Homo sapiens: one gene and its partners. The protein of the gene in region 2 purifies or fractionates together with the protein of the main gene of each other region. This does not show direct contact. Each region holds a gene or a part of one and is shown on either strand. Other genes may lie near its edges. The genes, in order: ATP1A3, LRRN2, TRIM13, ATF6, LARGE2 and DNAJC18.

Region 1 (4,936 bases), on a different chromosome or scaffold from region 2:
CGTGTCAGTGTGTGTGTGAGTTTCTCTGTCAGTGTATATCTGAGTCTGTGTCTGTGTTTCTGAATTAGGTGGCCATGTTTGAAACCACATCCTGGTGTGGCATCTGCGTTGACCCTCCGTGCACATGCGTGTGTGTGCACACACGCCTACCCAGGTGAGCAGCTCTGTGTGGCTGGTGTGTGGTCTGTGTTATGCGCATGGGATCTGAGGCTGCATCTCGAATGTGTCCCTGTGTTATGGGGATGGGCCCTGATGTATCAGCAGCGGGGTGTGCCTGGGTCTCTATGTGACACTCACTCTGGGTATCTGTCAAGCCATGACCACCTGCTGGTGTCTGTTCTCAAGGCCGCTGAGGTCACACAGCCTTGGGACAGAGCCCCGGCTCACACATCCTGCTGTGGGGCCTTGGACAAGTAGCCTGGCTTTTCTGAGCCTCAGTTTGCCTTGTATTTGATCTGGTTCTCTTGCTGGGTGATTGTGAGTTAGATGGGAAAAAGGGGGAGAGTGGGCTGTGAAAAGCTTAGAGGGATGGGAAGAAGTTGGGGTGCGGTGTCCGTAAATAAATGTGCAGAGCCTTGCACAGGGCAGGGTCCAGGCACTCACGTTGTCACCAGAGGGGTCGTCCTCGGTGCCCGCCTGGATACCGTAGGCCAGGAAGCAGAGGATAGCCCCGATCCACAGCAGGATGGAGAAGCCCCCGAAGAGCTGCCGGCAAAACTTGACCCACTCTGGGGTGGTAGGCGGTGGCGTGAGTGCGTTAGGCCCATCCCGGGCCAGGATCTCCTGGGCTTTGCTGTGGGTCAAACCCTGAGGGACAGAGGACTCACACAGAACCCTCCCTGGGCAACCCTGGCACCCCAGGCCTTCACCAGACCCCCAGAACTTAAGACACCAGCCACAGCCCCTCCTCCCTCAGACCCAGGGGTCCTAGCCCCCAGCTCCTCCTCCCTAGTTCCCAGGGTCCCAGCCCACAGCCTGGCCACACCTGCACACAGTCTGTGTTGTATTTCCGGCAGACCTCTTCCACTGACATCTTGTGCTCTGTCTGAGGAACAGGAGTTTGGGGGAGACGGTGAGTGCCTAGGCCAGCCAAGAACTGGCGAGGTTCTCTGGGAGGGTGTGCGGGCAGAGGGCGAGGCTTACCATAGCCACCTCCTTCTTGAGGTCATCCAGGTCCCGGCGCTCCTTGCCCTTGTTCTTCTTGGGTGAGTCCTTGTCATCTTTCTTGTCCTGCGAGGTGGCGATACGATAGCTGTCAGAGCCACCAGACTGCGGGCGAGAAGGGGTTCCAGGAGGACACCGGCCCTCCATGCCCCAGCTATCCTCCTGGCCGGTGCCCCTGCATCTCTGGGTGGGGGGTCTCTGTCTGCCTCTCGGGGTCTCCCTGTGTCTCCCGGAGCCTCTGGGTGACTTCACCTCCCTTCTGCCTCTGGTGACTCTCAGGCCTCGTGAGTCTCATCTGCTGCAATCAGCTTCCCTGTCTCTGGTTCTGTGTGTCTCTGAGTCTCTGTCCCCGAAGGTCCCTGTCTGGCTTCTGCCTGTGTTTCAGTCTCTCTCTGTTTCTGTGCCCATCTTTGCGGGGCTCTCCCCTTTTGTGTTCTGTGTCTATGTGACTTTGTTTTCGTTTTTTGAAACAATGTCTCACTCTGATGCCCAGGCTGGAGTGCAGCAATCACAGCTCACTGCAGCCTCGACTTCTGAGGCTCAGGTGATCCTCCCGCCTCCGCCTCCTGTGTAGCTGGGACTACAGGTGTGTGCCACCACGCCCGGCTAATTTTTAATTTTTTTCTAGAAATGGGGTCTCACTACACTGCCCAGGCTGGTCTCTAACTCCTGGACTCAAGCGATCCTCCTGCTTTAGCCTCCCAAACTGTTGGGATTATAGGAATAAGCCACCGTGCCCCACCTCTATGTGACATTTTAACTCTGCTTCTGTCTCTTCTTCCCTCTCCCTGGCCCTGTCCAACCTTCCTACATATCTGTCTTTTTTTTTTTTTTTTTTTTGAGACGGAGTCTCGCTTAGTCGCCTAGGCTGGAGTGCAGTGGCATGATCTCAGCTCACTGCAAGCTCCGCCTCCCAGGTTCACGCCATTCTCCTGCCTCAGCCTCCCGAGTAGCTGGGACTACAGGCGCCCGCCACTACGCCCGGCTCATTTTTTTGTATTTTTAGTAGAGACAGGGTTTCACTGTGTTAGCCAGGATGGTCGCAATCTCCTGACCTCGTGATCCGCCCGTCTCGGCCTCCCAAAGTGCTGGGATTACAGGCGTGAGCCACCGTGCCCGGCCTCGTATCTGTCTTTTCTATGTCTCCACGTGTATCTCCATCTCTTTCTCCTCTGTCTGTCTCCCTTGATGTGTATCTCCAGGTCTGTTTTTGGCTCTTGGTCTTATTGCTTTGTTTCATCATCTCTCTGTCTCCTGTCTCTTTATCTCTCCATCTCTGTATCTCTGTCTTTGCAAGGCTGTTTCTCTCTCTTGATAGCTCTCTCTCTCTCTCTATCGCTCTGATCTCTTTATGTTGTCTCTGTCATTCTCTATCCTGATCCCAGTCTCTGGGTCTCTCTGCATGTGTCTTTCTATGATTTTGTCTCTCTCTGATCTCTGGTTCTTTGTCTCTCTGCCTTGCATGATGTCTGTCTCCATCTCTTGGCTGTGTCTCCCCAGGTCTGGCTGAGTTTCTGTCTCTCTGGGTTCTTATTTCCCTCTGAGTTGGCGTCTCAAGGATCAGTACTTTCTGTCTCTGTCTTTTTCCGTCTTTCGGTCTGTCTCTCTCTGTCATTGTGTCTCTATCTTCATCTCTCAAGCTGTCTCCTCTGGGATGCTCACATCTCTCCCTACCTGTCTCTTTTCCTGTTTCAACCTCTCTCTGTCTCTCTCTCTGTCTCTCTAATATCTCTCTCTGGGATCTGCCTATCTCTGTCTCTCTCCCACTCTCTCTCTCTGGGATCTCCTCTCTATCTCTGAATCTCTCTTTCTCTCTCACTATCACTAAGATCTCCTCTCTTTCTCTTTCTCTCTCTCTCTCTCCCTCTCTCTGTCTCTCTCAAATCTTCCGTCCCCCTCCTTCCCCATATATCTCTCATTCTCTTTCTCTCTCTCCCTCTCTCTGTCTCTCTCAAATCTTCCGTCCCCCTCCTTCCCCATATATCTCTCATTCTCTTTCTCTCTCTCCCTCTCTCTGTCTCTCTCAAATCTTCCGTCCCCCTCCTTCCCCATATATCTCTCATTCTCTTTCTCTCTCTTACTACCTCATCCTGGAATTTTCCTCTCTGTCTCTCTTTCTCCCACTGTCTCTCTCTGGGCTCTCCTCAATCTCTCTCTCTCTTTCTCTCTCTCTCTGTCCATATATATATATATATATATCTGTCTCTTTTTGTAGGATCTTCCTCTCTCTTTCGCTGTCTGTCTCTGGGATCTTCCTCTCTCTCTCTGTCTCTTTCTCTCACTTTCTCTCTGGGATCTTATTCTCTATTTCTGTCTCTCTGAGATCTCCTCTCTCTGTCTCTGGAATCTGCCTCTCTATCTCTGTCTATGTCTCTCTGTCTCTGTCTCTCTCACTGTCTCCCTCTGGTACCTTCCTCTATCTCTGTCTCTGCCTCTCTCTGGGATCTTCCATGTGTTGGGCCCATGGAGCGTCCTTAACAGAGGCTGGGCATGGCCAGGTTCCTGGAGGACAGAGCAGGAGAGTTAGAGGCAGAAGCCCTAGTCCTGGCTTGAACTGCGCATGGTGTGAGTCCCTGAAGTTCCAGTTTGGGAGCCTGGGCGGATGGGGAGGGCAGTGTCCGAGGCTGGTGGGAGGGGTGGGGCGAGGCTGGGTGCTGCAGGGGCCGCTGACAGGTCCCGCAGGCCCAGGGCCAAGCTGGGATCGGAGGCTCAGCGCGGCTCAGCGCTAATCTCCTCGTGACCTTGTAGAGGGCCTGAGCTGCCTGCTGTCTGCCCCCAGACCCAGAGGCTGAGTCGGAGGGTGGGGGTGTGCAGGGAGGGGCAGCAGCCTGGAGATCTGGGAGCCTCAAGAAGGGGTGCAGGGGGTGGGAGGGAGGCTTGGCCCCACGCCAGCCCTGCAGCAGCACTGCGTCTCAGATGCGGAGGCACAGAGGCTTGGGGGACGGGGAGACCATCTTTCCTACTGCCCTACAGTGCCGGGGTGGTCTCAGCTTTGCCCGATGGGGTAGACCCAGGATGGAGAGACATGGAGAGATGGAGAGATGTGGAGCTACAAAGGCCTGGGGTCAAGTCCTGTGCAGGAGGCCAGGAGAGGGGTGAGATGGGGGTCAGGAGAGAGAGAGGGAGAAAATCAGCTGCCCACCCAGAAACCTTAGTTGAAGGCTGGGAGCTGATGCTCGGGGCCCCATAAATGCTAAGGGCTGGGCCGGACTCTCAGATACTGAGAGAGGCTGGGGTCCTGGATCCCTGGGTCTGAGGGAGGAGGGGCAGGGGTCTGGACCCCTGGGTCTGAGGGAGGAAGGACTGGGAGCCTGGAATCCTGGGTCTGAGGGAGGAGGGGCCAGGGCCTGGACTCCTGGGTCTGAGGGAGGAGGGGCTGGGGCTGGACCCTTGGGTCTGAGGGAGGAGGGGCTGGGCCTGGACCCCTGGGTCTGAGGGAGGAGGGGCTGGGGCCTGGATTCCTGGTCTGAGGGAAGAGGGGCTGGGGCCTGGACTCCTGGATCTGAGGGAGGAGGGGCTGGGGCCTGGACTCCTGGATCTGAGGGAGGAGGGGCTGGGGCCTGGACTCCTGGTCTGAGGGAGGAGGGGCTGGGGCCTGGACTCCTGGTCTGAGGGAAGAGGGGCTGGGGCCTGGACTCCTGGATCTGAGGGAGGAGGGGCTGGGGCCTGGACTCCTGGTCTGAGGGAGGAGGGACCGGGACCCTGGGACTCCTGGCTCACCCTGGCCCTGGCCTTGGCTCCTGCTTGCCCTTGACACAGCCAGACCCCCTTG
Region 2 (5,491 bases):
TGGAGCTTTTATAAAGAGTCCAAGCCATATAGATTAAGAACACAAGTGACATTTATTCATTAGATGGGCCATAGATCAAGCTTCTATATCCTGACCCTGAGTCAATTCTACCTGAATGCAGGTGGGGTGTGGGATGAGGGACTTCCTGCCTACAAGTTGTCACATACCTGTGTAGGATGACACAGGAAAAGTCATTGCCCTCCCTGCCTCCTCATTCAGGGTCCCAGTTCCTTCAGGAAGCCTTCCTTGATCACTTAAGAAAGCTTATTCACACAACCGTTCAGCAAATCCTTATACATATTAATAGTCTAACTGGGAGATAAGGCCCCATGAAAAGTTAGGTTAGAATGTAAGCCTTAGTATAAGTGTACAAGTTACCAGATGTCACAGATATCATAGGGCCAAATCAACTGCAGATACAAGTGATTTCAAAATGGAGATCTATATGACCCGGAGCAAGTGGTTTCTCCTCTCCAGGCCTCAATTTCCTTGGCTAGGAAACAGGGGATGGTAATGCAGACATTAGAAGGTTGTCAGCACGACTGAACAGAATAACTTTTGTAATGTTCCTCACATAGACTGGTGCATAATAGGTATTCAATAATAAATTTGATTCCTTCCCCCTTCTCTGTCTGAAGCACCAGCCTTCTACTTGCCCTGGGCTGCCAGATAAATGGTGAGATGTGACCTGGTCCATCCTTTCAGGTCAGAAAAGTATCCTAAGGACAGGATGACTTAAGCGGTACCTGGCATGTTAGAGGTCACTCAGTGTGATAATTCACTAGCATTGTTCATGTTCCTCACCTCTGCCCCCTCAAGCTGTGGGTCTTTGAACGAGCCTGGTGGGAACAGAGCTAATCAGCTGGCAAGTCCAGATACAAGTGTGGTCAGCTTGAGACATGGAGGTTTGTTTACCGCTGTATCTTCAGCTTCTAAAATCATGAGAGGCACACAGTAGGCACTCAAGAAACAGTTGTTGAATGAATACATTTTTTTAAAAGCCATGGAGTTTCCTTTTCCTTTCAAATAAACGACATAAGGGTGTGGGGAGTAGAAGGGGGAGGTGAGTAAATGACAGGGTTCAAGGGACACCAGGGCCAGGCAAATGCAGCTGCCAGGCCCACCAGCCCAGGCTCCTCTGCAAAAGGGATGCAGCAAAGTCAACAGTGCATGTGCTCCCACTGGCAGGATGAGCAGGAGTGCGTGCACGCCTGGCTTACGGTTTAAGCTGCAGTTTACAGGAGAAGCAGGGCAAAGTGGAGACAGAGCCTGGGAAGAAAGGGAGATATCTGGGGAAGAATGAGGAGGGTGAGAGAAGAGGAAGAGCAGTGTGAGGGGGAAAAGGGAAGTGAAGAGTGTTAGAGGAGGAAAGTGAAGAGTGAAGGAAGGAGAGGAGGATGAGGGGGAGGAGGAAGAGGGGAGGCACAGGGAAAATAGGATGGGAAGTGAGGAAGAACTGTGTTGAATTAGAGAGGGAACCTGCTGTACTAGCCTGGATGGAATTAGCAGATCTCTGAGATCTTACTGCCACTCGGTGTTTCCCCGGGAGGAGACTGCATTAGGGAGAGGGTGTGGATTTGGGGGTGTTCCTAGGTGCCAGACCCTGGGCAGACCTCAATCTCCCAGGCACTGAGGCCTTTAGTTCCATGCTTTGCAAATAATGAGGACCCATCCCAGGACCAGAGAGAGCCCTCCGCAAGAAGGAGAAGCCTGAGTCAGCACAGGGGAAGGAAGAAGGCCTAGGAGGCTCAGATCCCTAGCTCTGCCCTTCTGTTTCCATCGTTTCGCCACAACAGCACCTGGCCAGGAAAGTGGGTCAGGCCACCCACATGTGGCTTTTTCTGGTAGCCACAGGGCCCAAAGGCAAGGGGGCTCCAGTGCCCAGTGCAGAGCCCACCTCTACCCTCCATGCCCAGTGCTCTTTTTTGAAGGGATCTTTAAGAAGCAGTGGGCAATGGGAGGAGCTCCTGGCCTTCTTATTCAGGGACAAAACGCTGGGCCAGAGCCCATCCTAGACTGGCGGGAAAGGGGGGCACGGAGCCTGCCATCGGCCTGGGTGCATGGGGAGACCTACATCTTCCCCTATGACAGTGACCAAACTGGCAGGGAGTCACCTCTACTGCCCTGACCTAGGGAGGCTGTTCTCCTCACCACCCTAGGTCCTGGAGTTCTCAAGCAGAGGGCCTGTCAGTCCATCTCTGGCAACTGAGCGCTGTGCCCAGCCCACCCCCTCCAACCCTGCCAGTCGCCCAGTTAGAAGCTGCGTTGGCTCCAACAGATGGGAGCTGCGGCAGCCTGAGGAACAGAGCACAAAGCCCAGCTGACATTTTCCTTCCTGTTCGTTTGGGTGGGGGAGGAAGGGTAGGGAGCACAGTGCTACCCCCGGGGCCCCTCCCCAGGTTCCGGGTCTCCTGCACCTCTTTAGCTTCTCCGCTCGGCCCCAGATGGAGCTCAGTTCCCTCACCCCGCGGCTCCTCGCCGGCTGGGCAGCCAGAGCCTGCGCCACCCTTTGCCAGCAGGACAGACGGCCCACCTGTGGCTGGCCAGCCCATCCTGTCTCCTGGGTCCTGCGGTGGGCTCAGAGCCACCCTTCCGTTTCCGCTTCCCCCTGACCGAGTCCCCAGGCTGAGCCCCAGGCCGGCCCATCCCCCACCCCAAAGGTCCCATCCCAGGCTGCGGTCGGACCCCAGCCAGCCGGCCCGGGAGGAGCCTAGCTCCTGGTTCCAGATACTTCAGACAGACCCAAGGCCACCTTGTCCCTCCGCACAGACTCGCGAGCTCCAAGGAGGAGAAAGTCCCCAGGCTCTGGAGCGCTTCCAGCCTGCCAGTCCGCCCGTGTCACGCCCTCCCTAACCTCACTGCCACCTCTCGGCTCCTCCACATCTCCAGGGCCCCACTCTACCCAGCAACAGTTTGGGGGAGGTTCTGGCCTCTCCAGGCGAAGGCCCAGGCGCCCTCTCCCTGGCCGCTTCTGGGCATTCTCCAGCCCTCCGTCCCTCTGCCCCTCGGCCGCCTCCCTCTCCCAAGTCTCCGGCTCCCCCGCAGGCGTCTCGGCGGAAGGCAGCGGCCGGCCCTCCTCTGGCCCCCACCCGGGTCAGGCGGAGCTGCGGTGCCGGGGCAGGAGCCAGGAGCCCTGAGGCGGCTGCTCCGGCCGCTCCCGCCGCGTACGCCTCGGCCACGCCAGCGACCTCGGTGTCCACGATTCCCCGGCGGCGGCGGCGCTGCCCAGGTCAGCCCCGAAGCTGCACACTCACCCCGTGGGCGCCGGGCACCGTCTGCCGTCTGCTGCCCGCGCGGCCGCGCTCCGCTCGCCTTCCGCCCGGGGCCGGGCTGGGGACGCTGGTCCGCGCCCTCCCGCCGCGCGCGCCGTCTGCACAGGCCGGGGAGGCTCGGCGGGCGCCCTCCCCAACGTGGAGTTATCCTGGGAGCGGCTCCAGGGCCCAGCCGGTGAGGGCGATGGCAGAATCCCAATCCGTCCCCACCCCCTCTCCGCGCCCTGGGCGCGTCGCGGCCGGAGGCTGGCGGGCGAGAGCCAGGCGCTCCTTGAGAGCGCCGCGCGTTCGCAGGTGCCCGGAGCAGGCCCTCGCGGCGCCCGGCACCCCCTCCACGCGCGCCCCTCTTCCCGGCTTCGCGCTCGCCCTCCTCACTCGCTTCTCCGCCGCTCTCCCAACCTCCCCAGCCCACTCCGGTCGCCTCCTCCCAGTCTGCATGCCACGCCAACCCCCTCCAGTCCCGCTGCCATTTTAACTCCTGAGTGGCCAGAGGCCCCCTCTACCTAACGCACACACACCCGGGAGGAAGGAGTTGGGTGGGGCCAGACGCTAACGCTTGAGCTGTCCTTGTGCCTAGAGACACAAGGCTTGGCTGAGAGAAGGGGCACAGCCCTTGGGTCCGGGAAGAGAAGGGTTGGCTTCTCTCATACTGCCTCGGACCCTCTTGCAAAGGCCAGGAGACGAATGGGGAATTCAGCAGCTTTGTGAGGACAGGTGCAGCTCACAGTCACAGCATGCACCTAAGATCACATTTTTGCTTTGCATGGTGCTACCCTCCCGAAGTTAACAGTGGACTAAGGAATGTAGTGGGGTGGGTGAGAATTTGTCACTGGGCCCAGGCACCTCTCACCCTAAAGAATGGAGTGGAAGACCCCTTTAGTTGTCATGCTTTTCCAGCATTGCATCCTGAGCCGTGCAGCTCTAGCATTCTGGAAGATTCCGTCCTGGCTCTCAATGAAGGAGGTCAATTTCAGTCAGGAACTGGCAGGCCCAGTTAGGGGTTTGGCTTCAGGGTTCCCCACTCTGCCAGCTGGACATCATGAAGACTGGGGGAGGAAAGTAAGAAGGTGCCAAAGGTGGGTGCTAGGCTGCTGCCTGGTGGCTTAGAAAAGCTGGGTGACTGCCACTAGAGGAGGGCAAAGGCCCAATGCCCAACACCCATGCCTTGGTGGGGACTTCAGCCTGGACCACTCAGAACAGACATCACAAACTCGGCTCCATGGCAGGCCACACCCTACTGATGGGTCTGGACCAGAGCCTGCAGAACCAACAACAGGGGAATGGATGAGGTGGAGGCCAAGGTGTGGAGTCCTGTGAGGAGTGGCTTCCCTGGGCTGCCTGCCGTCATCCAGTGCTTGAGCTTCTGGCCCTGTCTTTTCCAAGGGTACAGCCAGTGGTGACTGCCATGCCTGGTGGCTTTTGTGAAGTTGGCTTGAAGGTCTGAGTTCTGTATGCACAGAGGGGATTCTCACCTTCATATATTGAATGAGCACATATTAAGTTCCCACTAAACCACCCCCATGTTCCCACTCTCCACCCCTGCTACGGAGCATAATGGCCTCAAGGAGCTCAGAGTGACAGGTTGGAACTATATGAAACCAATTTTAATATTTCAAGACGATGGAAGTGCCATAGAAATACAAAAAGAAACCACCTTAATGGACTAGCATTATTCACAAAAGGTTTAACGGAGGAGCTGAGTCTCCAACTGAGCCTAGTTGGAGGGATAGGATTTGAACTGGAAGAGAATATGGGGACCAGCAAAGGCAGGAAAGTGGAGACAAGCAGAGTAGAATGGGTTGTCTGGAGGGTAGGGGGCAAGGGAGGAAAATTATAGAGCTACTATTAGATGCCAGCCTTTTCTCATCTCTGTCATCTTAGACTCTGAGTTGACTAATATCCCCTTTTAACAGACCGGGGGATGGAGGCCCAGATCGTTTAAGGCAGTAGCCCAAAATCTGTAGGCAGAATGTGAGACCTCATTTTCACAGTGCGACAATGCCACATTGAGTATACAGGGTGGGAGCAGCTGATGAAGGGCCCGAATTGCCAGGCTCAGCAGTTTATCTGTGGACCCATCCTCAGGTGATTTGGGATGAAAGAGGCAGGAGGATGGGAGACTATTGAGGTAGCTGTTGCAGGAATCTAGGAGGAGGGGAGCAGTGAGAATAGAGTAAATGCATGGGCCTTTGTAAAGAAGACTTGGCAGAACTGTAAGA
Region 3 (4,936 bases), on a different chromosome or scaffold from region 2:
ACAAATACCAATTAAAAACTTCCCAAATGTTTTATACCAACAATTTTAAAAGCTGACAACTTTTTAAAGTATCCAGAAAGGTGGTAGTAGACACTAGTTGCGGAAAAAAGTCAAACTTGTTCTCCTGCCATATTGATGTTTTCTAACATACTTTTAAATTTACATACAATGAAATTCACTTTTTGATTTACAGTTTTATTTTTAACAAAGTTGCATACCACCACTATGAGTTTATTTTTTTGAACAAATTGTCAAGCTATCCACAAAGAAGAAGGATTACAAAAAGTGCTTTATGAATCCTACCTCAATTAGTATCTGGCAACAACAGCTTCTATAAATGAGAACCATAACACAACCACTAAAATAATAAAAATGGAAAAGCCAATACTTACAAAGTAAACGTGTCATAATAGAGTTTATATATATGTATTGGACTTCTTCCTTCTAGAATTCTTTTAAGAGATCAACCCAAAATGATTATACTGCAGAAAGTACTCATTCATTCACTCTGAAACAAAAGTTCATTTTCTCCTTATAAAACCTATTAGTAAAAGAAACTTTCCTACTAAGGTTTTAAATTCCACTGGCTGTTAGCAATATAAAGTTGTTCAAAATATTACCCATGTTTTTTGTTTTTTTTCATTTCCCATTAGGGAACAAAAAGAAAAGCCAATAAATATATCACGCTTTTATCTTAAGGATTTAACTCAAATTTCCATCCTGTTTTGAGGCATCTTTGAAGGCAAGAATTTCAAAACAGTACCTAAGTATCTATCAGGTGGCTAGACAGCAAACATTGAAACTCACTTCATAGACATTAAATTATGCTAAGCTTTACTGAACTGAGACAGCCACAAATGTTACTTTGAAATAATTCCTATAATAAAATGGCTCATTAAAAAAAATCATTTCCTCTCAGCACACTAGTTAATCTTATTTTCAAATAGTGTACTATATTCTCCCATCTCAGCCTCCAGAGTAGCTGGGACTACAGGCATGAGCCACTGCACCTTACTATACTGTAGTATGAGATCCATTAGGCCAGGTGCATTGGCTCATGCATGTAATCCCAGCACTTTGGAAGGCTGAGCCAGGTGGATCATGAGGTCAGGAGTTCAAGATCAGCCTGGCCAAGATGGTGAAACCCTGTCTCTACTAAAAATACAAAAATTAGCCGGGAGCAGTGGCAGACACCTGTAATCCCAGCTACTCGGGAGGCTGAGGCAGGAAAATCACTTGAACCCAGGCGGCAGAGGTTGCAGTGAGTCAAGATCGCACCACTGCACTCCAGCCTAGATGACAGAGTGAGACTCCATCTCAAAAAGAAAAAAAAAAAAGAGAGATCCATTAATAAATGTTTTCTTGAAACTAAGTAAGGGTCTAATTAACAACTATTAAAATCTAGGTAGAGGATGTAAGAATACTTTAATATTCTTCTTGAGTTTTCTCTGTTTGAACATTTTCACAATAAAATGGGTGGAAAAACTAAAGAGCCAATTATTAAAAAACCATATTGAGTTTAGAAAGTAAAACTTTGAAAACATTAGCTAAATATAAGCCTCATAAGAAGTTTAATCTGCTGTAGTATGGTTTGTTTTTGTTTTTGTTTTTTTGAGACAGTCTTGCTCTGTCACCCAGGCTGGAGTGCAATGGTGCGATCTCGTCTCACTGCAGCCTCCTCTTCCTGGGTTCAAGCAATTCTCCTGCCTCATCCTCCCAAGTAGCTGAGATTACAGGTGCCTGCCACCACGTCAGGCTCATTTTTATGTTTTTAATAGAGACGGGGTTTCGCCATGTTGGCCAGGCTGGACTCAAACTCCTGGCCACAAGTATCTTCCTGCCTTGGCCTCCCAAAGTGCTGGGATTACAAGCATAAGCCATCATGCCCAGCCTATGGTTTCATCTTTCATAAATTTTTTTTTTTAATGTATTACTGGAAGTCTCTGAATCCAGACCTGTGAGGAGACTGACATACTTGTCTGGCTCTCAGTCTGTAACCTCTGACAAACCACTTATACATACTAGTTTCTCTCCTCATTTGTATAGCTATTTTAAAAGGTATATGAAAAGTATTTACAAAGTTTTTATTTTAAATACTCTGTATCAATGTGTTATTACTCTTCATTCTTTTAGAGACTGTCCCGGTGACTTATATGATCAAAACAGGACAAAGTAAGATACAGAGATCAGATTTCAGATATAATCTCTAAAAATGAAAATTAATGTATTACACATAGCACCTCTGGCATATATATGATCAAAACAGGACAAAGTAAGAAATATCAGATTTCAATACCTCTAAAAATGAAAATTAATATATTACATATAGTATCTAAAATAATTGTTATGTGGCTCTTGCAAACAATATAAAAGTTACCTATGTGTCCATATAAGACAGTAAGTAACCAACCTTTTCTGGCATTATCCTAGAATAAACAGTAGTTAAAATTTCCAAGATATTTCTAGCAGAGATCCTGACAAGGCAAAATAGAGCTAGTACAGAATGTTCACTAGCTTGGTAAGTTCACTTACTCAGAAAGTTCACAAAGGGTTGTCAGACTAAGGTGAAATTCTCAGAAATATAAACCAGGTCACTCATTACCTCGCTAGTTCAGAGCACTAAGAAAAACTTTTTCCTTTTCCTTCATTCTCTTCTCCATACCATAGTTTAGCCTGGACTCTTTCCTGCCTTTTTTTTTTTTTTTTTTGGGACAGAGTTTTGCTCTTGTCACCCAGGCTGGAGTGCAATGGTGTGATCTTGGCTCACTGGAACCTCCGCCTCCTGGGTTCAAGTGATTCTCCTGCCTTAGCCTCCCAAGTAGCTGGTATTACAGGCACTTGCCACCATGCCCAGCTAATTTTTTGTATTTTTAGTAGAGACAGGGTTTTACCATTTTGGCCAGGCTGGTCTCGAGCTCCTGACCTCAGGTGATCCGCCCACCTCAGCCTCCCAAAGTGCTGCGATTACAGGCCTGAGCCACTGCACCCGGCCAGGTGCTGTTATTCTAGAAGGTATGATAAATAGTTTATAAAAGACACATAAAAGTAAGTTTCAGAGATCTGCTCATGTCTATAGTTAACACCACTGTACTGTACACTTAGAAATCTGTGTAGAGGATAGGTCTCATGTTAAATGTTCTTACCACAATTAAAACCATAAAATATTGACACCATACTGAAACCGAAGTTATCCATGCAACTAGCTTTTGTGTCTTCTTAAATTATAAAATTAGTTTTTATTATAGAAAATTCAGAAAATAGAGAGAAAAAGCCACCCATAATCACATCAGCAAGAAATCACCACTACTATTATTTTGGTGTCTTTATTCCAATCCCATGTGTCCGTGCATGTGCACACATTTTAACAGAACTGGTAGCATAATACAATTTTGTATCCTATCCCCTTATTTTATTACATGCCTTTCCCCCATCATGATATGTTCTAGAAAAACATGACAGTCCATGTTGTGGATATGCTTTCTTATTGCTCATTTATGGGTTTGTTCTTGTTGCTGTGTTGTTTTGTTTGTGGGTTGTTGTGTTTTTTTGGTATTGTAACATTTAGGTAAACACCTTATAGAGAAAAGTCTTGCTCCACAGCTCTAATTACTTCCTTAGACAATTCCTTTAAATGTACTTCTGGGTCAAACAGTAAGGACATTTTTAAGGCTGTTGAAAAGATGACTAGGTTTCTCTCTAGAAAGGGTTTATATCACTTTATGAACTCTAACCAATGATGTATTAGAGTGGTCCACCTCTCTATGCAGTTCCTAACCTTAAATAAAACCATAGTTTTATAGGACTTAGTAAAAAACAATAAGACACACTTGTTACCATACCTACCCGAGTTTAAAATATAAAAGTTTAAGGCAGTTAACATTAGTCTGCATCTGTGTCTTACCAATATATATGTATAGGCAATAAATGGTAATAAAAGTTATGGGGTAGGAATAGAAATACTGGGCTTAAAAGCATCTTAGAAATCATCTAAACACCTAATTTTAGGAGTCAAAAAAACTAAGACACCCCCAGCACTCAAGAAGTGGAGACTCATCAGTTGTACACAGCAAACTAGGCATCACAGCCTGAGTTTTCTAATTCTTAGACCTTAGCAATATCTAGAAAGGGACTCAAGAACTCAGTATTCTTATTCATAAAATGAAGGGGTTTAATCATAAGCTCTCTAAAATCCCTTCTAAAATTTTGCAGTTTTTACAAACTAGGTTTAACAGGCTCTCTAGTGAAGGGGAAAGCACAGAACCTGCTTTTGAGTACCTGTGTTCAAGCACCAGTTTTATCCTTCATAAAATTAGGATTTTTATATCTGGGAATGGTGCCACACACTTGTAGTCCCAGCTACTCTGAAGGCTGAAGCAGGAGGATCACTTGAGCCCAGTTCAAGACCAGCCTGGGGAACACAGTTGAGAATCCCATCTCTTGGAAAAAAATTTAAAAATGATTTTTATAGTATTTACCTCATAATGAAATGGCTCCATTGCCTGGGGGATACACCCGTGGTTGTCTCGAGCCAAGAAAGAATTCAGGACATGGACACACACAAGGAGTGGGTTTAGGAGCGGAAAATTTAATAGGGAAAGGTTCCTCACGCTGAGAAATATCACCCAAGAGAGGGTCTCCGGGTTTGGGGTGAAACGCAATCGATTTTGTACAGAGGCTTGAGGAGGTGGTGATTTACATAGGGCCCAGGGGACTGGTTTGACCAGGTGAATCATTTACATAGCCCGTCTAAAGACTGGCCCTCCCACCCTAATTTTTTGTTATGCAAATGTAGCTTCTACCTGGGGCCGCCATGACACCTGCACCCGTGGTTTTACCTAGTGATCGCCAAGACGCCCACATAGGGTGACAAGGAAAAGGGAGCGGCCCAGACGCCCACATAGGGTGACAAGGAAAAGGGAGTGAGAAACCCCATATT
Region 4 (4,936 bases), about 43 Mb from region 2:
CTGCGGCTTATATATAGGCTGAAACTCCTTTAAAGAGTTCTCTATCTGGCTCTCTCATTTCTTTCCTCCCATTCGTTCTAAACCTGCTCCAATCAAGCTCCCCGCTCCACATACACATAATTATTAATGTCCCCAGTGACTTCCATATTGCTAAATTCAATGGTAAACTCATAGTCCTCATCTTACTTGACCTATCAACAGCATTAACATAGTTGATCCTTTCATTTTAACTGAAGCATTTTCTTCACTTGACTTCCAGAATATCACACTTACCCAGTTTTCCTCCCACCTCAGTGGTTGACCTACCTTGCTGGTTCTTCCTCATCTCCCTAACACAAATTTGTCCCTGGGCTCAGCATAAACGTTTCTATCTATCTTACTTCCTTGGTAATCTCAGCTGAGCTCACGGCTTTAAATAAAATCTATATACCAAGGATTTCCAAATATACATCTCCAACCCACACTTCAAGATGCATGTGCAGTGAGTATGACATCTCCTCTTAGATGTTTAAAAGGCATGTCAAACCTAACATATCCAAAATGAGCTCCTCATCAACCCCACCAAACCTCCTACTGCTTTGTCCTCATCTCAGTTAATGACAATTGGATTTTCCCAGTTGCTCAGGCCAAAAACCTTGGGATCATTATTACTTAATTATTTACTTCTCTTCCTCACTCTCCATAATCAATCTACCAGAAAATTCTGTCAGCTCTGTTCTCAAAATATATATCTGTAATGTGGCTTCCTACCTTTCCTCCCATTCTTCCTTCCCTTCCCAACCTTCCTTTTCTTCCCTACCCCTCCCAACACAGAGATGTCAGCTTCCAAAGAAGCAGGGCAACAAAGGTGATGGGGTTTTGTGCACAGTCATCTCCAGCAATATGCCTCATATCCAAGGAAATAGGATGGTGTGGGAGAGACTATTGCCCAGCAAAGATGCCAGCATGCCCCAGCCCAGTGGGAGGGGGAATGGAGTAGCAGATGGAAAACGCAGGCTGAGTGGTTAGGAGAGTGGTCATACTGAACAAATATGTTAGGTGACTGAGCAAATGGTTGAATATATCTAAAATAATTAGAATGCTCTGGTTTCTCTTCAGAACGAATGAATCTTTTGCCTTTTACTAAAATAATTGGAGTCAGATTTCTCACAGTCTGAGAAAGGATTTAAGAGCATGGAAAGAGTCGGGAGACTAAAAGAATCCTAAGATGTTGGATTAGAACTAGAAGTATTAGTAAATAAACTCATTTAAAATATAACACATACAGATAGCTGTGGAAGTATATATATATGTACACACATATGCAGATGTTTGTATTATGCATATATACATATATACACATGCACATATATATATATATACACACATGTATATATATTTCCTAGTTCTGTCTGCTAAGAGGTCCTAGAAGCAATGACATCCCAGTAGCAATGAAAATACTGGGTGACCAGATCTTGGATACTAAATACCATCTTCCACCAAACAGAAGTCCACTAAGGGGTTCCTTGGAGAAATAACCAATTCCAGGGCTTGCAGCAGGGAAAGTGCAAAATAAGCCTGGAAATCTTGCTGTGCCAGAAATTCTCAGCAAATGACAGGAATATGTCAAAAAGAACAAAGGCCCCAATATGAATGAATTCTCAGTGGTCAAATCTGGGAAAATCTGAGCATCAGAATAAAATGAGAGTAGCGGTTTACCAACCACCAAATAAAAAAGGAATCAATGAGTTCATCACGGAACAAAGGAAGGAAGGAAGGTAGGTAGGTAGGTTGGTTCTTATAGTGCAATGTCAATCAACAATGATAGAATGATAGACAGAATGATAGAGTTAGATAGTTACCATTTGGCAACCATTAGAGTGGTAACTGATATAGATTGGGGTTATTAATGAGGCTAGGGCTCGTGGTTAGAGGTTTAATAAGAAAAGGATATTGGTGTTATGTCAGATTATCTCCCCCAAAATAGCAATAAAATACAAAATGGGAAGCAGTGGCTTTACAGTGGTGAAACCTAGAAGATACCAACTTGACCAAGTGATCATGTGACTATATCACAGGATGATATGATGGCATAGGAACATCGCATAGTATTTACACTATAATGTATACCCTCATTTTATTCTGATGCCAAATTTTCCCAGATTTGACCACGGGGAGTTCATTCATATTGGGGCCTTTGTTCTTTTTAACATGTTCATTTGCTGAGAATTTCTGGCCCAAGATTTTCCAGGCTTATTTTGCACTTTCCCTGCACTTTCCCAGCCCTGGAATTGGTCATTTTTCCAAGGAACCCCTTAGTGGTTTAGGATCATCTTGTCGAATAAAAGACTTCTACTCTTTAAGACTGTCAAGGACATTAGAGACAGGAAAAGACTAAAGAACTGTTCCAGATTAAAGGACACTGATGAGACATGATAAGTAAAAGCAATGAGTGTTTGCAAGTAAAATCCTAGACTAGAAAAGCAAATCATTATTGAAACAGATGGCAAACTTTGAATGGTGTCTTTGAATTGGATGACACTGTTGTATCAATGTTTATCTCCTGACTGGAAGAAATATAGGGTAGTAATAGAGGAAAGTGGCCTTCTTTTGGGAGGCAGGAGGATAGAGAGTATACACTACAGTATTTAAAGGTGATGGGTCAACACATCTCTCTCTCTTGAAAGGGAGAAAGAGAGAAATTGAGTAAATGCAGTAAAATTTAACAACTGAGGAGTCTGTGTAAAAGGCATGCAAGAGTTCTTTGCACTGTTCTTAAAACTTTTCTATAGATTTCAAACTATTTCAAAATTTTAAAATGTATGTATATATATGTGTGTATGTGTGTGTGTGTGTGTGTGTGTGTGTGTGTACATATCCATAATCCAACTACTTCTCATTACTCCACTGCTACTATTGTAACTCATGGGGATTGCTATAACAGCCTCCAAAACGTCTCCCTGCTTCTGCCCTTGCCCCTCTTTCAGTTTATTTCCAACAGAGCTGCTGAAGTGAGCCTATAAAAACAAAGGATGTTATTGGGAATCAGGATTCTCATAGCGGCAGAAGAGAAATACAAGCATATGGTGCAAGAAGGTGAAAAAGAACCCTGTGATGTTAGCTTTGAAGTATAAAGCATATTAAAATGAATTGATGCTTTTTAAAAATAAACATTTCCTCATTCTTAGGAAATACATGGTGAAGTGTTTAGGAGTTTCATATTATCTGCAGCCCACTTTCAGATGTGAAAAAGGAGGAAAGTGTGGGTAATATTAAGATATAAAGTGAATGTGGCACGATGTTAACAGTTGGTAAATCTAGATAAGGAAAACGCACGTTTATCAGTGTACTGATCTTTTGACTTTTCTGTGGTTAAAAAAATAACTGAAGGTGGGTTGATAAATATACTCGTATATTTATAGAACATTCCAAAAGAATCCATAAGAAACTGTTAGCATCAGTTACCCCAAAGTATCCTAAAACCTATTGCCTATTTCTATATCCTTTGCACCAGTCCCACACTATTAGATTTCCCTCAACAGTAGTAAATAATGGTAGTTACTATTTTTAGTGTACTCAACAAACTTTCCCACCTCACCTCCACCTTGCCCATTTATTTATTCATTTACTCCTTATAAGTTTAATAAGATCAGACACAGTCACTGGGTTTAGCAATGTGGAAATCAGTAGTGCCCTTAAAAACAGCAGTTTCAGGCCAGGCATGATGGCTCACGCCTGTAATCCCAGCACTTTGGAAGGCCGAGGCGGGTGGATCACATGAGGTCGGGAGTTTGAGACCAGCCTGGCCAGCATGGTGAAACCCCATCTCTACTAAAAATACAAAAATTAGTGGCTGACGCCTGTAATCTCAGCACTTTGGGAGGCCAAGGTGGGCAGGCGGATCATGAGGTCAGGAGATCAAGACCATCCCGGCTAACACGGTGAAACCCCGTCTCTACTAAAAATACAAAAAAAAATTTAGCCAGGTGTGGTAGCAGGTGCCTGTAGTCCCAGCTACTCGGAAGGCTGAGGCAGAAGAATGGCGTGAACCTGGGAGGTGGAGCTTGCAGTGAGCCGAGTGAGCCACTGCACTCCAGCCTGGGTAACAGAGAGAGACTCCGTCTCAAAAAAAAAAAAATACAAAAAGTAGCCGGGCATGGTGGCAGGCGCCTGTAATCTCAGCTACTCAGGAAGCTGAGGCGGGAATCGCTTGAATCCAGGAGGTGGAGGTTACAGTGAGCCAAGATCGTGCCATTGCACTCTAGCCTGGGCAACAGAGCAAGACTCTGTCTCAAAAAAAAAAAAAAAAAAAAAACAGGAGTTTCAGTGGAGTGGTGGCACCTGACTGGACTGGGTTCAAGAGACAAGGAGAAATAAAAAACTAGAGTCAGTGAACGTGGACATTTTTTAAAAGGAATTCTGCTGTAACATACAGTAGAGAAATGCAGTAACAGCAAGAGGTGAAGTAACATCTGAAGAGAGTTTTGAGTTTGTTGGTTTTGTTTTTTTTTTTTTTAACTCTAGCTAGAGTACTATCTAGATATAGAAACAGTACTTCTAGGAGAAACAACAACATGTTCATTTACTGACAGAGATGATCTAGTAGAGAGGGGAAATGCTGATGCAGGAAACAGGAGGAAGAATAGCTTGAGCAATATTCTTGAACAAAACAGGAAGAATCTAAAGCACATATGGAAGGACTGGCTCTAGCTAGGAGCAAGAAGCCACTCATTCTCACCAACAAAAGAGAAAGCAAACATGTTGATAGGTGGGTAAATGAGGTAGTGGGAGACTGTAGAAGTTCTCTTCTGATTCAAAGGATGGGAGAGATGTTGGAGGTTTGAAGATAGAAGAAACTTTATAAAGCAATCATCAGAATGGGACAGTGAGAGGACCAGGGAAATATGATTGGTCTGGCAACACTTAAATTGAGACCAGTCAGGACAGTTGAAGTGTT
Region 5 (5,377 bases), on a different chromosome or scaffold from region 2:
AGGGAGGCAGTTAGGGGCAGTCCCTGGTGGGGCCGCCCTGGCAGCCTCCAGCTGGCACCATCGTGTGCCTGGTTTCCCTGCAACACCTGCCTCTCTGTCCCTGCTGCTGCTTGGCTCAGGCCCAACAGGCAGCGTGCATGGAGGTGGTTACACACAGCTGTTTCCGTGAGGGTGACCGTGTCTGCAGCACGCTTCCGTCTCCGCATGCACGGCTGCCTCTCCAGCCACCTCTGATACTTCTCTCTTGGGGCCATCAGAGCCTCCCTTGGGCTGTCACCTCCCAGCTCACACACACTCTTCAGTGGTTTCCTCTCTTCATTCTCTTATAGGGCGTGGTCCTTCTTATTTATCTAAAGGGCTGAATTTAGGAGACTTTTTACCCAGGGGCAAAAGGCTCTTAGGGTAATGAGATGGATGGTGGCCCAGGTGCATTTTCCAGGGCCTGGGTTCTCCAGATCCCGTGGCTTCTGTTGAGTGGAGGCAACTTTGCTCTGTGTGAACCTCGCCCCTGTCCCTCTGCCGGGCACCCCTGGCAGGAAGCAGGACTCCCATCCTCACCCTGACTTAGACTGTCCTCTGAGTCAGCTCCTCTCCAAGACAGGAGTGGGCAGCCCTGGGCAGTCTTCTGGCCCCTTGCTAAAGTGAGGGGCAGGAAGCTGGGGCTGCCCTCCAGAAAGCCGGGGTAGGAACTCTGAAAAATACCTCCTCTAAACGGAAGCAGGGCTCTCCAGTTCCACTTGGCGCCCCCTCCCACAAGGCCCTTCCTCCCTGAGGACCCCACCCCCCTACCCCTTCCCCAGCAGCCTTTGGACCCTCACCTCTCTCCGGTGTCCGTGGGTCCTCAGCCCAGGGTGAGCTGCAGTCAGGCGGGATGGGACGGGCAGGCCAGAGGTCAGCCAGCTCCTAGCAGAGAAGAGCCAGCCAGACCCCAACCCTGTCTCTTGTCCATGCCCTTTGTGATTTCAGTCTTGGTAGACTTGTATTTGGAGTTTTGTGCTTCAAAGTTTTTGTTTTTGTTTGTTTGGTTTTTGTTTTGAGGGGGTGGGGGGGGATACAGAGCAGCTGATCAATTTGTATTTATTTATTTTAACATTTTACTAAATAAAGCCAAATAAAGCCTCTCAGCCTCATGGTGTTGGGTTTGGGGCAGGGGAGGGTGGGCAGGACACATTCCAGTCCCAGCCTCTGCCCTCCCTGACTGGCTGTCTGGGGGTGGGGGGCGGGGGGGTGCTTGCCCTTAAGGGCCCAGGCCCTCCTGTGACCCCAGCTGGATGTAGCACCTCCCTTGTGCACTGACGCCCTAGCCCCAGAGTGCCCTTGCTCCCCCAAACCAGGAACACAAAAAAGATGTTTTAAAACTTTAATTATGAAAAAGGGATAAACAATTCAAGATGGGGGAACCAGCCCCAAACTGGCTGGGGCAGAGAGAGACCAGTCCCCAGCCATACAATAGCAGCAAGGGGAAGACCCCACCCCACAGATGCTCTGCCCCAGCCCTTCCCAGAGACCTTAAATAATTTAAATAGCAGGGATGGCGGAGGGCAGGTTGCCCTGGTGTCTGCCCAATGCTAAGATGAGGGGCAGCGCCGGCCCAGCCTCAGCCTCGGGCAGGGCTCTGGGGCTGCTGCAGGGCTGGGAGGTATTTGAGGGCAGCAGCCCCATGGTGGCGGGACAAGTCCTGGTGGAATTCGTCCTTGAGGGCCTGGAGGCAGTCACGATAGGTGGGGCTGGAGCGGAAGCGGGAGATGTCCAGGCTTGGAGCGTGGGGCAGATGGATGGTGAAGGCCTCGGGCAGCACCAGGAGCTCATATTCCTGCAGGGTGGGGCAGAGGAGCAGTGGCTGCCTGGCTTGCCTGGCCTGCGGGGAAGGTGCAGCTCCAGAGAACAGGCTTACCCTGTAGCCCCTGAGAGCTAAAGCAAGGGCCAAAGGGCAGATTATTTTAATTCCACAGAAGGGGGACATTTCTAACAGTGTTGCCTAGTGGTGTGGTCCCCCATGCAGGTGTCGTGAGTTCCCTGGACCTGGAGGTGCTCGAGTCAAAGGTGGAGGCAGCAAGGTGCCCTCCTCACCTGGGCATCCAGCTCCACAATGTGGGCCACTTTGTTCCAGCCGAAGCCCACAAAGCGAGGATCATAGCGGGGACAGTCTCGTGGCACCACCACGTAGGGTTCATAGTTGGCCGCCCATTGCACACGGTACGGGGCCTGAGCCTCCCGCCAGCGGGCATAGTCTGTGGGTGCGTGGCCTCGGGGCCACTCGTGGTACCTGTGCAGCAGGGTCGGGTGGGAGCCAGGCTGAGGCTAGGAGCTCGTGGGTAGTGGGGGCCAGTGTGGGCAAGTGAGTGGAGTGGGCAGAGAAGTAGCCTCTCCTACCTGAAGGTGTAGAGAGTGCCCGCATCCAGCAAGGCCAACAGCTCCACCTTGGAATGGGGGAAGCTGAAGCGGTAGCGCAGGGTCTCGAATGCCGGCACCACCAGTGCTGCCTTGCGCCGGCTGCCCAGCCCCAGCTGCTCAATGGAGGCCCTGAGGAGGAGCACCCATGAGCAGGGGAGAAGAGCGGGGCATCTAGGACTGGGCCAGTGACACTCATCAGGGCATTAGCCACAGGACTAGACCACCATGGGCCATCTTGCCTGATGCGACGGGTGGGCACAACCACAGGTGGAGCTGCTGTTGAAGCCGGCCCTGGCCTCCCTGTTGACAGCCCAGAGAAACAGCCTAATACAAACCCCAATTGACAGAGGCCACTGAGGCCCAGAAAGGAGCAGGGACATGGAAGCCTGGGGTCCCACGCATGCCCCGTCCACGTCCACCCCATATATTGTTCCCCTCTCTGCCTGCAGGCCCACCTGAGGTAGTCGTAGAGAGAATAGGCAGGCAGGAAGTCAATGTCACTGAGGAAGACGTAAGGCGTGAGGGCCTGGGCCAAGGCCACGTTGCGAAGCTGGTTGACGGGGTATAGGGGCCCCTCACGGTACACCACATGGTAGGCCACGTCCTGCCGGGCAGCAAGCACTGGTGAGGCCTCGACGAAATGCAGGAACTGCTGAGCTTCTGCGTCTGTCAGGTACAAGGCCAGGCTCATGGGGCCAGGCCAGTGCCTGCACAGGGCTTCCAACATCTGCAGCCTATGGGGAGAGGGAGGTCAGCACAGCTCTGCCCCTCTTGCACAGGAGCTCAGGGAGGCCTGGCAAACCTCCCCAGTTAGCTGCTGCTGCCACCTCCTCAAGTGACTTACTGAGCACCCTTCAAATACTTTTAGAGCCAGTCTGATTGAATCTTCACAACTACCCCCACCAGGTGGGTACTTTCTCATTTGAGAGAGAAAACTAGGGGCCAGAGATATGAAGACTTGCTCATGGTCCCACAGCGACCGAGGGGCAGCTCCGGGCATCTGAATGACTCCAGAGCCCAAGCTCTTTCCACCATATCCAATGTCTCCAACTTCTGGAACTCCCTGAGGGACAGGTAGCTCACTACCACAGCATCAGGCTGCCAGATGGAACCTCCTCTCAGAAGTGTCCAACCCCAGCCCATGCCATACCCCCTGGGCTGCCCTCTGCACCCTCACCGGTCCATGGACAGCTGGGCCACAAGGGTGACATCGTGAGGCCGGGGGGGTGGCGGTTCATGGGGCAGGAAAGTGACATGCACACGGTGCACAGTGAGCTGCTGCTGCCGGAACTCAAAGCAGGGGTCTTCCTCGTCCAGTTGTGCCAGGGCCTGCTGCAACTGAGGGGGCAAGGGGTGACAAGGACCGGGGATAGGGCAGAACAACACATCCCCCAGACAAGGCTGGGTCCCACCAAAGCAGAGAGGGGCAGGGGAAGGTGACTCCTTCTCACCTGCTCAGCACCAGGTGGGGGCTGGCTGGGGCACACAAAGAGCTCTCTCCGCAGCAGGTTCCCATCGTACTCCAGGAAGGTCAGGTAGAAATTGCGGAAGAATTCCACATGCTTGTTCTTCACCCGAAGCTTCTTTGGTGAGTTCCAGTGGATCACCTGGGACCCAGGAGGGTGTTGGGGCCATGGGAGCAGGGAGCAGAAGTCTCCATCCATGGCCCCCCACCACCACACAGCCTCTTGTCCCACTCACCTTGAGGTCAGACGCCTCAGAGTAGCAGCGCTCGGCCAGTGTGTGATCTGACAGCTGCACATTCCAGACACAAGGCAGACGCTGCACTAGCCCCGGGTGCTCCTTGATCACAGCGTTGAAGATGTCCTGAGCAGAGACACCCATCACATCCCAGCCCCCAGCCTGCCACACCCCACCCGGCAAGGCTTCCTCAGACCTGGTCAGCCAGTGAGGTGGCAGGCAGGCTAAGGAGCTCCCGCCTGGCTGTCAGCCTCCACATCTGCTCCCAGCCAGCCTGCCGGAGCCGGTCCAGCCGCAGCAGGATCACACCTGCCAATGAAGAGATGCTGTCATGCCCACCTGGGACGACCAGCTCCTGGGGGACATGGGGGTCATGAAGGTGTCCTTTGTTTTTTGACATTGGTATTTTCTGACTGTTCAGACATGATCATGGACTACTTGTTTTTTGTTGTTGTTGTTTGTTTTGTTTTGTTTTGTTTTTTAGAGACAGGGTCTTGCTTTGTCACCCAGGCTGGAGTGGTGCAGTGGCACAATCATGACTCACTGCAGCCTCGACTTCCCAGGCTCAAGCAAACCTCCCACCTCAGCACCCCACCACAACCCCCACCGAGTAGCTGGGACTGCAGGCATGCCACCACACCTATCCTTTTTATTTATTTACTTATTTTTTATTTATTTACTTATTTATGTATGAGATAGAGTCTCACTCTATTGCCAAGGCTGGAGTACAGTGGTGTGAACTCGGCTCACTGCAACCTCTGCTTCCTGGGTTCAAGTGATTCTCCCTCCTCAGCCTCCCAAGTAGCTGGGATTACAGGTACGTGATACCACCCCTGGCTAATTTTTGTATTTTTAGTGTAGAAGGGGTTTTACCATGTTGGCCAGGTTGGTCTCGAACTCCTGACCTCAAGTAATCTGCCTGCCTCAGCCTCCCAAAGTGCTGGGATTACAGGTGTGAGCCACTGCGACTGGTCAATTTTTTAATGTTTGTAGAGACAAGGGTCTCACTATGTTGCCAAGGCTGTTCTCGAACTCCTGGGCTCAAGCGATTCTCCCACCTTAGCCTCCCAAAGTGCTGGAATTACAAGCCTGAGCCATTGCACCCAGCTTGCTCGTAGACTACTTTTGTCAATAGTCAATCCTCGGGGGTGAAGAGGAGGCGCTGTCCAGCTTACAGAGCACATCCATGGCCTTCTCACACTTGGTGATCCCAGGGCTGTTAAAATTATCCCCCATTTAATGGATGAGAAAACTGAGGCTCAGAGGGAGCACGAGAGCTGGC
Region 6 (4,936 bases), on a different chromosome or scaffold from region 2:
TCAGACTCCCGAGTAGCTGGGATTATAGGCACCTGCCACCACACCCAGCTAATTTTTGTATTTTTAGTAGAGACGGGGTTTCACCATGTTGGCCAGGATGGTCTTGAACTCCTGACCTTGTGATCCACCTGCCTTGGCCTCCCAAAGTGCTGGGATTACAGGCGTGAGCCACCGCGCCTGGCCACAGAACTTTATTTTTTTTTAGAGACAGGGTAGGGTCCCTGTCACCCAGGCTGGAGTGCAGTGGCACGATCATAGCTCACTGCAGCCTCCAACTCCTGGGCTCAAGTAATTCTCCTGCCTCAGCCTCCCAAGTAGCTGAGACTACAGGCATGCACCATAACCCTGAGTTAATCCAAAAGAACTTTTTAAAGGCAGTCCCTTAATGGCAAAGTACTTCCTGACTTCACGAAGAAAATATCAATGGAGCCAGTCCAGAAAAAGGGCTCTCAGTGCCCAGGCCTTCTTGCTGTACAACCAAAAGGCTGGCAGCTGGTGTTCATCTTTTCCATTCAAGGCTCAGGGGTTAGCAACTTTATATATAATGGCAGCCCCCATCATAAACTGAACTGCATTTGCACAAAATAGCAGAGTTAGCCTATCCCTTCCTGCCTTATATCCTGATGCTCACTTCTCATCCTTACTAGTACAATGTCCTTTGTGACATTTCTTTTCCAGAATAGGGCACTTTTGTCTGCACTAAAAAGTTGATGAGGTAGGGCTGGCCGCAGGGTTCACACCTGTAATCCCAGCACTTTGAGAGACTGAGGTGAGTGGAAGCCTTGAGCTCAGGCATGCGATAAGTAATAATCACATCATGGACTGTATGCCTTTCTTATAGCAGTCCTGCACCCATATAAAAGCTTCATTTTCAATATGAGATGAAAAGGTATTTTGCAAAAAGTGCAATGTTTTCTTACCTGCTGGCATTAAGTGCAGGTGGATCACAAGGCCAGGAGTTTAAGACCAGCCTGGCTAACATGGTGAAACCCCATCTCTACTAAAAATACAAAAATTAGCTGGGCATGATGGTGGGCGCCTGTAATCCCAGCTACTTGGGAGGCTGAGGCAGGACAATCGCTTGAACCTGGGAGGTGGAGGTTGCAGTGAGCCAAGATCGTGCCACTGCACTCCGGCTTGGGCGACAAGAGCAAAACTCCATCTCAAAAAAAAAAAAAAACAAAACTGGAGAACTGCAAGAGATCACTTTTTACTGCTATACATAATTTACTCAAGAGACAAACTGCTCACAAAGAGATGATTAGCATCATGTGGCATTTTAAGCAGATACTCCCAATACTTGAGGCTCAGCAAAATAACAGGAGCTAACTACAAAATTATTACAGTAGTACAGTACTACTGTTAATTTTATGCAGGTGTGATTAATACTGCACCTGTATGTTTACATTTTTCTCAAATGCAAATGGTACCATGTAGTCTCAAGTGTTTGTGAGCATATGTTTTGATAGATTTTCACTTTTTATAATAGATTTGTGTATATTTTATGATAGTAAATGATAAAATAGACTAGAATCTAGATATATTTTATGCATTCATATAATTTTCTTAATTTTTTGGTATGTCCATGCTCCATGGTTTGTGAGATGGTGATGATGATGATTATTATTTGAGACAGAGTTTCGCTCTTGTTGCCCAGGCTGGAGTGCAATGGCACAATCACAGCTCACTGCAACCTCTGCCTTCTGGGTTCAAACAATTCTCCCGCCTCAGCCTCCCAAGTAGCTGGGATTACAGGTGTGCGCCACCACGCCTGACTAGTTTTGTATTTTTAGTAGAGACGGAGTTTTGCCGTGTTGCCCAGGCTGGTCTCAAACTTCTGAGCCCAAGTATTCTTCCTGCCTTGGCCTCCTAAAGTGCTGAGATTACAGATGTGAGCCACTTTTTCAAATTGTTGCAAATCTAAAAAATTTTTCCAATGTATTTATCTTTTAAAATTGACATATAAAAATCCATGGTTCAAACTGATGCCACTCAAACCTGTGTTGTTCAAAGGCCAACTGTATCTCTTTTTTAAAACTATTTATTTATTTATTTGTATATAGAGACAGGGTCTTGCTTTGTCACCCAGGCTGGATTGCAGTAGGGTGATCATAGCTCACCTCAGCCTCGAACTCCTGGGCTCAAGGGATCCACCTACCTCAGCCTTCTGAGTAGCTGGGATTTTGGGTGCATGCCACCACACCTGGCTAAATTTTTATTTTTAGTAGAGACAGGGCCTCGCTATGTCGCTCAGGCTCGTCTTGAACTCCTAGCTTCAAGAGATCCTCCTATCTCAGCCTCCCAAAGTTTTGAATTACAGGCATGAGCCACCACACCCAGCCTCAACTATATTTTCTTAATTTCATTTTTTTATTGTTCATTGCTAGTATATAGAAAAATGATAATTTTTGTATATTGATCTTATATCCTGTAACTTTGTCCAACTTGTTTATTAGTTCTAACAGTATTTGTGTGTGTGTGTGTGTGTGTATTCATTAGGATTTTCCATTTACAAGATCATGTCATCTGTGGATGTAGTTTTACTCTTCTTTCCAATTTGGATGGCTTTTATTTCTTTTTCTTGCTTAAATGCCCTGGCTTGACCCTCTAGTACAATGTTGAACAGAGTGGCAAGAGTGAACAGACATACTTGTCTTGTTCCTGATCTTGGTGGGAAAACACCTAGTTGTTCACCTTTAAGTATGATGTTAACTGTGGATTTCTGTAGATGGACTTTATCAGGTCGAGGAAGTTCCCTTCTATTCCTAGTTAAGTGTTTTTATTATGAAAGAGTGTTGGGGCTGGGCGCAGTGGCTCACACCTGTAATCCCAGCACTTTGGGAGGCCGAGGCGGGCAGATCACAAGGTCACGAGACCATCCTGGCCAACATGGTGAAACCCCGTCTCTACTAAAAATACAAAAATTAGCTAGGCATGGTGGTGCGCGTCTGTAGTCACAGCTACTCAGGAAGCTGAGGCCAGAGAATCGCTTGAACCTGGGAGGCAGGGGTTGCAGTGAGCCGAGATCGTGGCATTGCACTCCAGCCTGGGTGACAGAGCAAGAATCCGTCTCAAAAAAAAAAGAGTGTTGGATTTTGTTAAATGCTTTTTCTGTACCTATTGAAATGATCGTGTGATTTTTGTCCTTTATTCTATTAACATGGTATGTTACATTGATTGACTTGTGTGTGTTAAACAATCCTGCAATACTGGGATAAATCCCACTTGGTGAAAATATATAATACTTTTTACATTGCTGTATTTGTTTTACTAGTATTTTATTGAATATTTTAAAATCTATATCCATAAGGGATATTGGTTGATAATTTAGACTTCTTATGATATTTTTGTCTGGTTTTGGTTACAGAGTTAATACTGGTCTCAAAGAATGAAGCCAGCTGGGCCTGGACTTTTCTTCATTGGAAGTTTTTTTTTTTTTTTTTTTTTTTTTTTCAGACAAGGTCTCCCTCTGTCACCCAGACTAGAGTGCAGTGGTGCTCACTGTAGCCTCGCCCTTCCTGGCTCCATCAATCCTCCTACCTCAGCCTCCTGAGCAGCTGGAACTGCAGGTGTGCACCACCATGCTCGGCTAATTTTTGTGGGGTCTTTTTGTTTGTTTTTTATTGTACTAATGAAGTTTCGCCATGTTGGCCAGGCTGGTCTTGAACTCCTGGGCTCAAGTGATCCTCCCACCTCAGCCTCCCAAAGTAATGGGATTACAGGCATGAGTCACCATGTCCAGCTAGAATTTTTTTGATTGTTAATTAAATCACCTTATTTGTTGTAGGTCTACTTGGGTTTTCCTTTTTTTTTTCTTTTTCTTTTTTGGAAATAAGGTCTCTGTCACCGAAGCTGCAATGCAGTGGCACTACCATAGCTTACTGTAACCTCAGATTCCTAGGCTCAAGTGATTCTCCTGCTTCAGTCTCCAAAGTAGCTGGGACCACAGGCATGTGCCACCATGCCCAAGTATTTTTTTTTTCTTTTTTTAGAGATAATGTATTGCTGTGTTGCCCAGGCTGGTCTCAAACTCCTGGTCTCAAGCAATCCTCCTGCCTCAGCACCCCCAAAGCTCTGGGATTACAGGTGTGACCCACCATGCCTGGCCTCCATTTTTCTTGGGTCAGTTTCAGTAATTTGTGTCTTTCTAGGCATTTGCTGATTTTATCTAGGTTATCTAATTTGTTGGCACACAATTGTTCATAGTATTTGGATTGGTAGGGATATCCCTCTTTCTTTTTTTTTTTTTTTTTTTTTTTTGAGAGACAGGGTCTTGCTCTGCTGTGCGATTATGACTCACTGTAGCTTCAACCTACTGGGTTCAAGCAATCCTCCTGCCTCAGCCTCTCAAGTAGCTGGGACTACAGGTTGGTGCCATCATACCAAGCTAATTTTTGTATATATATATTTTTTGGAAGAGAGGGGGTTTCACTGTATTGTCCAGGCTGTCTAGTTCCTTAAGGTAGATTAGGTTACTGATTTGGAGTCTTTTTTAAAAAAATAAGCATTTAGAGCTATAAATTTCCTTCTAAGCACTGTTTTAGCTGCATCCTATACATTTTAGTACGTCGTGTTTTCATTTTCACTCATCTCAAAGCATTTTCTAGCTTTCCTAGTGATTTATTCTGTGACTTGCTTGCTTATTAGGAGCTTGTAGTTTAATTTCCACATATTTGTGAATTTCTCAAATTTCCCTTTGTTTTTGATTTCAGAGAACATACACTGTATGATTTCAATCTTTTTAAATTTATTGAGGCTTGTTTTATGACCTAAGATATGGTCTATCCTGGAGAATATTCTATGTATCCTTAAGAAGAAAATCGTTCTGTTGTTGTTGAAAGAATGTCCTGTAGATGTGTGTTGTGTCTAGTCGGTTTCTGCTGCCTCTCTTAAAGTAGAAGCAGGGTAGTCAGTTCATGTTATACCCTAATATTCC

The links.
Region 1: the proteins of LRRN2 (region 2) and ATP1A3 purify together in Homo sapiens (affinity purification with mass spectrometry; 2 studies listed by BioGRID and IntAct, with this or other methods). This does not show direct contact.
Region 3: the proteins of LRRN2 (region 2) and TRIM13 purify together in Homo sapiens (affinity purification with mass spectrometry; 2 studies listed by BioGRID and IntAct, with this or other methods). This does not show direct contact.
Region 4: the proteins of LRRN2 (region 2) and ATF6 purify together in Homo sapiens (affinity purification with mass spectrometry; one large-scale study listed by BioGRID and IntAct). This does not show direct contact.
Region 5: the proteins of LRRN2 (region 2) and LARGE2 purify together in Homo sapiens (affinity purification with mass spectrometry; one large-scale study listed by BioGRID and IntAct). This does not show direct contact.
Region 6: the proteins of LRRN2 (region 2) and DNAJC18 purify together in Homo sapiens (affinity purification with mass spectrometry; one large-scale study listed by BioGRID and IntAct). This does not show direct contact.

What each region holds. Positions count from the first base shown.
Region 1 is NC_000019.10:41,987,333-41,992,268, forward strand, and holds part of ATP1A3 (sodium/potassium-transporting ATPase subunit alpha-3), read right to left. Parts: intron 1,270-4,936; coding exon of another isoform or gene 1,231-1,269; coding exon 1,144-1,230; intron 1,046-1,143; coding exon 986-1,045; intron 808-985; coding exon 604-807; intron 1-603. UniProt on the Homo sapiens protein: This is the catalytic component of the active enzyme, which catalyzes the hydrolysis of ATP coupled with the exchange of sodium and potassium ions across the plasma membrane.
Region 2 is NC_000001.11:204,682,066-204,687,556, forward strand, and holds the start of LRRN2 (leucine-rich repeat neuronal protein 2 precursor), read right to left. Parts: upstream 3,674-5,491; 5' UTR 3,255-3,673; intron 933-3,254; exon of another isoform or gene 805-932; intron 1-804.
Region 3 is NC_000013.11:49,999,064-50,003,999, reverse strand, and holds part of TRIM13 (E3 ubiquitin-protein ligase TRIM13), read right to left. Parts: intron 3,006-4,936; exon of another isoform or gene 2,895-3,005; coding exon of another isoform or gene 2,892-2,894; intron 1-2,891. UniProt on the Homo sapiens protein: Endoplasmic reticulum (ER) membrane anchored E3 ligase involved in the retrotranslocation and turnover of membrane and secretory proteins from the ER through a set of processes named ER-associated degradation (ERAD).
Region 4 is NC_000001.11:161,772,322-161,777,257, reverse strand, and holds part of ATF6 (cyclic AMP-dependent transcription factor ATF-6 alpha), read right to left. Parts: exon of another isoform or gene 4,643-4,936; intron 1-4,642.
Region 5 is NC_000011.10:45,925,066-45,930,442, reverse strand, and holds the end of LARGE2 (xylosyl- and glucuronyltransferase LARGE2), read right to left. Parts: intron 4,405-5,377; coding exon 4,292-4,404; intron 4,222-4,291; coding exon 4,096-4,221; intron 4,002-4,095; coding exon 3,846-4,001; intron 3,733-3,845; coding exon 3,572-3,732; intron 3,129-3,571; coding exon 2,850-3,128; intron 2,695-2,849; coding exon of another isoform or gene 2,524-2,694; coding exon 2,374-2,523; intron 2,267-2,373; coding exon 2,071-2,266; intron 1,912-2,070; coding exon of another isoform or gene 1,814-1,911; coding exon 1,598-1,813; coding exon of another isoform or gene 1,519-1,597; 3' UTR 1,347-1,518; downstream 1-1,346. UniProt on the Homo sapiens protein: Bifunctional glycosyltransferase with both alpha-1,3-xylosyltransferase and beta-1,3-glucuronyltransferase activities involved in the maturation of alpha-dystroglycan (DAG1) by glycosylation leading to DAG1 binding to laminin G-like domain-containing extracellular proteins with high affinity and in a phosphorylated-O-mannosyl trisaccharide dependent manner.
Region 6 is NC_000005.10:139,432,280-139,437,215, forward strand, and holds part of DNAJC18 (dnaJ homolog subfamily C member 18), read right to left. Parts: intron 1-4,936.